Homo sapiens: one gene and its partner. The protein of the gene in region 2 purifies or fractionates together with the protein of the main gene of each other region. This does not show direct contact. Each region holds a gene or a part of one and is shown on either strand. Other genes may lie near its edges.

What was found.
Region 1: the proteins of GUCY1B1 (region 2) and MTFR2 purify together in Homo sapiens (affinity purification with mass spectrometry; 2 studies listed by BioGRID and IntAct, with this or other methods). This does not show direct contact.

The regions. Positions count from the first base shown.
Region 1 is NC_000006.12:136,248,075-136,251,822, forward strand, and holds the start of MTFR2 (mitochondrial fission regulator 2), read right to left. Parts: upstream 2,238-3,748; 5' UTR 1,902-2,237; intron 1,080-1,901; 5' UTR 1,026-1,079; coding exon 963-1,025; intron 1-962. UniProt on the Homo sapiens protein: May play a role in mitochondrial aerobic respiration essentially in the testis. Can also promote mitochondrial fission.
Region 2 is NC_000004.12:155,757,400-155,761,147, forward strand, and holds the start of GUCY1B1 (guanylate cyclase soluble subunit beta-1), read left to right. Parts: upstream 1-1,621; 5' UTR 1,622-1,741; coding exon 1,742-1,744; intron 1,745-1,956; exon of another isoform or gene 1,957-2,142; intron 2,143-2,387; coding exon 2,388-2,461; intron 2,462-3,748. UniProt on the Homo sapiens protein: Mediates responses to nitric oxide (NO) by catalyzing the biosynthesis of the signaling molecule cGMP.

The DNA.
Region 1 (3,748 bases), on a different chromosome or scaffold from region 2:
AAAAATCTTAAATTATCCTTGACTACTTTCTTCTAATTCACCCCACCCGTCTTCCTTACAATCTCATATTACAGTTATCTTTATTGTTTCTTATTCCTCATATTTTAAGCATTATGAATACAACCATGTATTACTCCTCTGTATTACCTGCAGAAACAAGCATATTGTCTTAGATACAGCAGATTTTCAACAAGTAGATAAAATTTGATTTGCTTATGATATGGTTTGGCTGTGTCCCCACCCAAATCTCACCTTGAATTGTAATTATCCTCACGTGTCAAGGGTGGGGCCAGGTGAAGATAACTGAATCATGGGGGCAGCTTCTCCCATACTATGCTCGTGGTAGTGAATAAGTCTCATGAGATGTGATGGTTTTATAAACAGGAGTTCCCCTGCACAAGCTCTCTTGCCTGCCACCATGTAAAATGTGACTTTGCTACTCATTTGCCTTCAGCAATGATTGTGAGGCCTCCCCAGCCATGTGGAACTGTGAGTCAATTAAACCTCTTTCCTTTATAAATTACCCAGTCTCCGGTATGTCTTTATTAGCAGCATGAGAACAGACTAATACAGCTTATAATTCTCAGGCCTAAATCATCCTCTTTCCATTAGATTTATTCTGGATTTATTGAGCTTTAAATATTGAACTTGTTTATAAATTACCTTGAATAGAAGTTTTAATGTATCTGTGCAATAAATGTAATTCTGTGAAGCTCATGTCTATATTTTGCTTCCTTTGTATCTTCTGTTGGCATTTGTCCTATCAGGTAAATATGTTCTCAATAATCTTATCCCTCTTCTAACTCAAATCATCAAAGCTATACTATTACAAACTCACCTTTGTTCCAACTAAAAAGAAGCAACAACTTTGCCTTAAATCAAATGATTACATATAAGTCATTTTCAAAATGAAACCCAAGAACAAATACAACAGATCCATTCCAATCCAAAACGACATTTACCTGTTCTACAGGAACGCCAAAATATTCCAGCATCTCTCTTAAGATATTCAGTATGAGAGACATTGATGAAGCAAATACAGAAGCCAATTCAAAGGAACATTATCAGTTTCTTGGTGCCTTTGGGGAAAATTTTAGAAAATGTTACTCTTGACAAATAAATGCCAAATTGTACTACATAACCTGGAAAAGTCCTCTTGATACACGACACAGTCAACTAATTTCTCCTAGCCAGCATTCTTTTAAGTCAGAGAAAAAGAAAGGAAGGGGAAGTCTGGGGGAAAGAGAGGGTTGTAAAGGAAATTTCAATTAATTGGTTAGATTACATTAAAACCTCGTAGGATGTTTGAGCCTAGTTAATAGAGACCAATCAACAAACTGGACATCTACTTAGTAGGCAAGGCTTCAAGTTACATGCCACAGCGAAGCTCGCTCTTTCCTGAAAGCTTTGGGCTGAGACTCTTAGCAGATGGGTGAGTTTAGCCAACCCTTGAAAGCAGGCAAGGGACGACTCAGTTTTTAAAAAAATAAACAGTAGCTCTTCTCACACACATATCCTCACGTGTCAAGGGTGGGGCCAGGTGAAGATAACTGAATCATGGGGGCAGCTTCCCCCATACTATGCTCGTGGTAGTGAATAAGTCTCATGAGATGTGATGGTTTTATCAACAGGAGTTCCCCTGCACAAGCCCTCTTGCCTGCCACCATGTAAAATGTGACTTTGCTACTCATTTGCCTTCAGCAATGATTGTGAGGCCTCCCCAGCCATGTGGAATGCCCATCCCTCCTCACTCTTTTAAAATGAGAAGCATGAATTCCAGATACGGGACGTGACTTGGTCACCCATCTAGTAACAGGCCGTGACCAGAGCCGGATCGCGTCCCTCGCTTTGGTCACAAGCTTCCTGGTGCTCTCCAAACACAGCGTGGTAGCCTTGCTCACCTTCCTCCGAAGCCGAGCCCCCGGGAATCACCAGAACATCAAGCGGAGGGCGTTAGGAATCCTCAATCAAATTCCAGACTGCGCCACTCCTTGTGCAGATCGCTCAGACGTCTACCCAGACCTCGACCCAGTTTCCACCCGCGCGCCTCGGCTTGCAGCCACAGGCGGTAACGATGCCCTCAGCGAGGAATAAGAGGTCAACCCGGTGCCCAGCCCTGGAGCCTCACGCTCAGCCAGGGTAATGTTATGGGAAGCGCGCCCCCGTCCTCCTGCGCCCAACCAACCCACCTGCTAGTCCCTAGGACCGGACTGCTACTTCCGCATGACAGGACTGCTACTTCCGCATCCCAGGACGAAATCAAACTCCGCGGGCCAGGACCCGTAACCAGCCTCATTGGGCAAAACTGAAGATCGCTGCTTCTGATTGGTCATTGCATGATGTCAGGCAATTCGGGAAGCGACTGCTTTTCCTTCTCAAGAGGCGGGTCTTCCGAGAGTCAGCCAATAGGAGCTGACGGGCAGGGCAGGTCGCGTTAGGACAGCGTCGCTCCCGCAGGGCAAGGTTTTAGGTACAAACTCGTGAGCTGGACTCGCAGTCCGGAGTTCGTACCCCACAGAACTCTTCGCAGGGAGTGTCTTACTCGCTACAGCCGGACCCTAAGCGCATCCGCCTTCCCAAGTTCATCTGACACAAAATCGCGATTTATTTTTTGGTCATTTCATTTGTTCAGCTAATATTAAAATACTTGTGGAACTGGCAGAAGCCAAGCACTACCCCCGAGGGTTTTGCAGCTTTGCAGTGGCTAGGATTCATTCTTTCGTTCACTAAATACACCTACGTATCCAGGCTACCGAATATTGGGCCGGACACTCTCCTGGCTTAGCCGAGGATGGCAAGTGATATGACAGGTGATATCCCAGTTTTCATTTCTGATTTGAGGTTATTGGCTTCATACGAAATAGCTTCCTCTTCTGAATTTCAGCAAGACGTGCACTGGAGTGATATAACAATTTAAGATGTGTGCCTGCTACTGACATAATTTGAAAATCTAAGTTTTGAACTAATTTATCTATGGTCAACATCACTTATTCATTCAACCAATAATAGATATCTACTACGTAGCAGACACCATTCTAAGCACGGAAAATACCTTAATGAGAGGGCAGGTCCTCGTCCTCCTGGAGCTTACAGGCCAGCGGGGCATCTCGTTCCATTCTAACCCTAATTTGCTTTTCTCTATAGCACTTATCATATATATTTAGTTACGCTTCCACTACCACCAAACAAAATTGTAGACTCCAGGAGAACAGGAAGTTGTTTTGATCCATGCTCTATCTTTCCCCAGTGCTTTAGAAGAGTGTCTGGTATATAATAGGCATTCAGTCTATTTGTTGAATAAAATACCTAAATGTGGAATGACAGAAAAGATGATAATGATTTGGGACTAAGCAACTAGCAAAACAATTGATAGCAATAATAGTGATATGCCCAGTAGAGCTGGATACGGCTGAGTGAGCGCAGAACAAGGATGATGATGGATCAGAAACCCTAGATGGAGTAATTTTCTCAAGTTCCTTGTCCTTCCCTTTGCCCTTGTGAATAAATCACGACTTTATAACCCCCTCCCTTTCCCACTCTCTTATCAAACAGCAAACAGACAGGGCCAGAATGAAAACATCCCTCCAGAATGAGAACGGAACCACTACTCTTCCAGCTGCACTATTAACATAGGTTAATATTCCAACTGATTTAAGTAGCAAGGAGGACCCAGGTCAAATACTACATCCATAAATGCTTTGCTGACAACTTTCTTCTAAATTCTTCAGAGATATTTCTTCCAGTTTAC
Region 2 (3,748 bases):
GTAACAGTAAAGAAAATTCATCTGTGTAGAAAAATAATCAAAAGATACAGAAAGTTATAAAAAGTAAGAGTCATGGCCATTCCAGCCACTGGTTCTAATTACAGACGATAGCCATATCAACACTTCCTGTGTTTCCTCCCAAACCATTATTCTTACAGCAACATGTATGTGCCTGTGTTATTACCCACATAGCACCTTACTGTATACTAACTCTAAAAAATGGAAAATGATTACATTCTTGTGGTGTTTTGTAAACCTGACAATACTTTTCTGCATCATCATTTTCTAGTCACCCTCCTGCTTTTTCATGGTTGTTTAATGTGCCATTTTAATGGTTCAAAATTAGTGGTTAATTGTTGTTAAATAATGATTAATGTTTTAATAGTTGTTTAAAACAAGGTGTTAGATTGTATGAAAGGCTGTAATCTATTTACTCATTCCACCAATAATGGAAATTTTTAAAGTAATTTGTTGTTTTGTTTGTTTGCTACATGCCACTATTTCTGTATCAGTTTCCTTCATCATAGCTCTCTCGGTGCTGATGTCAGCACAATCTTATTGTTTTGACATTTTTCTCTAACCATATTGAGACTGTTCTCACAACAAAATATGCACATCTTAAAATACCATCTGGCTTCTCAGGTCCACTTGAGACTGGTGACCTCACTTTTGACCTTGCCCTAAAAGTCAACTGGAGTCCATATACCTCAGGTACAAACAGCTTTAATAAGCTGCCACTTCCTGTTCCTCTCATCTTCTCTCTATGGCAGGACTCAGAGCATTAACTAACCTAAGGGCCTGGTAGAATGTAAGCTGGAGGTAGAGTAGTTAAAGTCTGTGCATTTTGTACTGGTCATTTTCCAGTTCGTCTGTTGCTAAGAAACAGCAACAGAGGCCCGCTCTAGAGGGTTACAAACTCCCTGGAATTATGGCTCCCGGACATGGTGTAGGGAAAGGTGTCCCACAGGGATCAAGCCTAGAATATCGCTGGATCTTGTACAGTTTAGTAAAGGGCAGGACTGGATTTAACATAACGTCCACCAAACTACATTACTGAAAATTTTTGGTGCTTCACTCAACTAGTCTCATTGACTAGAAGTGAAAATATGTTTTTCTCAATATTACCAGCTTTAAATTTGCCATAAACTGTTGTGGGACCAAGCCACAGAGGAAATGTTTTTCCGCTAGACAAAGATAAGCATGAGGATGCCAGCAACAGAGGATATTCCTTTTAAGGTCTGTCCATTGCAAAGTACACACGTACACGCTCACACAACAAACACGCCCTGTTCCCTTTTGCTTGTGTTAACCACTGAGGGCAGATCTCTGAATAATAATACATTTAGTGGGTCCACAAGAGCTGCATTTCCTCTGCTCCAGAATTCATGCAAGGAGCACGGCTGGGGCTTCTCCACTGTCATTGTTATGGCCTCAAATGAAGGCCTTGTCACCAGGCGGGGGCGGGAAGGCACTGGAGCGCAGCAGCATTGAGAGCATCCGAATTCCCTCCTCTGTCCCTGATTGGTTGAAGAACTGGGGAGCACCGACCAGCCCCCTGCGGCTCGACTCGCCATTGGCTGGGAAGAGGTGGCAATCAGGGCGGGCCAAGGCGGCTGTTCTCGCTCCAGCTCGATGCTGCCTCCCCGGCCCGGTTGCGCTGTAGCCGCTGCCGCCTCTGCCTGGGTCCCTTCGGCCGTACCTCTGCGTGGGGGCTGCCTCCCCGGCTCCCGGTGCAGACACCATGGTAAGTGCTCTCAGCCGGGTGCGGCCCGAACCTCACCCCTCCTCGGCCGGCCTGGCAGCGAGGGAACTGGCCGCGCAGCCGGAGCTTGGCTCGGGGGCCCTGGGCGCTCACTGCCGGCCACGGGAGCAGCCTCACTCCTTGCCCGCGCCCAGTCAGGGGAGGTGGGAACGCCGCGAGTCGTGGCGGGGGCGATCGGTGCCTTTGCTTCCCAGGCGGGTTTGCCGCTCCACACCGCAGCTTCCTGAGCTCGGGAAGGGGAGGTGCGGCGGAGGCGTGGGGTCTTCCCGGCTCTGGCCGGCCCCACCAGTGTGGGAGGCTGAGCGCCAGCGGAAGGGAAGGCTCCGGGTTCGCGTCCCCGCGCTGCCCCCGATGCCCAGCCTCTCCCGGAGCGGTGACAGGTGAGGAGGGTGGGAAGATAGCGTGGGGGTGGGGCGGATGGTGACGGGGAGAATCCACCAGGGATTGGGGGGTTGCGCCCCCACGATCCGACTCCTTTAGTGCATAGTACCCCTAAGGGAGAGGAGTCAGGGGCGGGGTGAAAGGTTAAGCCAGCGCCATGGGAGCAGAGGCAGCAGCCTCGCCCCCAAGCCGCTTCTCAGGTACAGCGGGTCCCTGACGCTCAAGTCTCTCCCTGTCCCCGCAGTACGGATTTGTGAATCACGCCCTGGAGTTGCTGGTGATCCGCAATTACGGCCCCGAGGTGTGGGAAGACATCAAGTAAGTGGCCGGCTACCCTGGCTGTGGCCCAGGTCGGCGCCCAGTGTGGGAGGCCCCCCGCGCCTCGCCTGGTCCTCAGCCTGCTGGCCGGGTCGCGGGCGCGCATCCTTGGAGGTGCCTCCGCGCCTCGCTCCCGGCTCGCTGCAGCTGCGCTCCCACGCTCCGGGACTGGAACCAGGAGGGGAGGGGCGGCTGGGGCGGGGCTGCGAGGGCGAGAACCGCGGAAAGGAGCCCCTAGGGGTCACCACGGCTTCCCGACCCGGCCTGAGCGTGGGAACGCGCTGCCGGCGCTCCCAGGCTCAGCAGGCCGGGCAGCTCCCACGCGTGCAGAGCCCCGAGGGACCACACGGGCCTCCGCGAGGTTCCTGCGCCCGGAGGCCTTAGAAACAAACGGAAGACTTTGGCTCCTTTATGATTTACACACCTGGCGTAAGTTAGGCCTTTTTGGTATGCTGAAACACGCGGGAGATTATTTCTTGAGCAACAGTGAATTAAGCGCATTTATTCATTTTTAAATAAAGTGAAAATTGGAAGTTTTTTGTTTTCCCCAAATCCCACTGCCCACCCCCCCCGCCCCAACCCCTATCCCCCGTTTTTTTCTACTGTGTTGAAGACTTAACAGTTCTAGGAGGCATTCTACTTTCAGTCCTGGAGCTTTGAGCCCAGTACTGGGGATGTGAACGGAAATACCACACCCACCTGAGAGTTTAAACCTGTTGGAATGACTGATGGGTCAGCATGTCTGCAGGCAGGTTGACTATTTCACTCTAATAAAGTTGTCTCTCCTTTTTCCTCTCACTCTCAAAAAATTTGCATTTAACTTATGGTACAGCTGACCACCACCAACTAGCTACTCCAAAACCCTATTTATGGATTTTCATATTAGAGCAACAGTCAGACTATCACATTGTAACAAAGGTGGAAGGAAGGGTTTCCTGGGTGGGCAGATGGGAATACACTGTTATTATTCACTCTGATTTCCTGTACTTAGTGATTTCATTTTGTTGTCTCAGGTAGGTGAGGCTTCCATGCTGTTTTTCCCTAAGCACATTACAATTATTAGCAATCAATTCTAACAGGCCTTATTATGCAGTTACATGATGGTGATTTCTCATAACGATCTGTTTCCATAGAAATGACCAGGGTTATATATTAAGCACGAAAATGTAACTTTTCTTTCCCCTGGATCTGTATCACTGAGCGTTTCTTTCATGTTTCAGAAACCATTTGTATTATCCACAGGGCATATTACCTACATATTATAAACAGAAGCCGAGATTTGGCAAG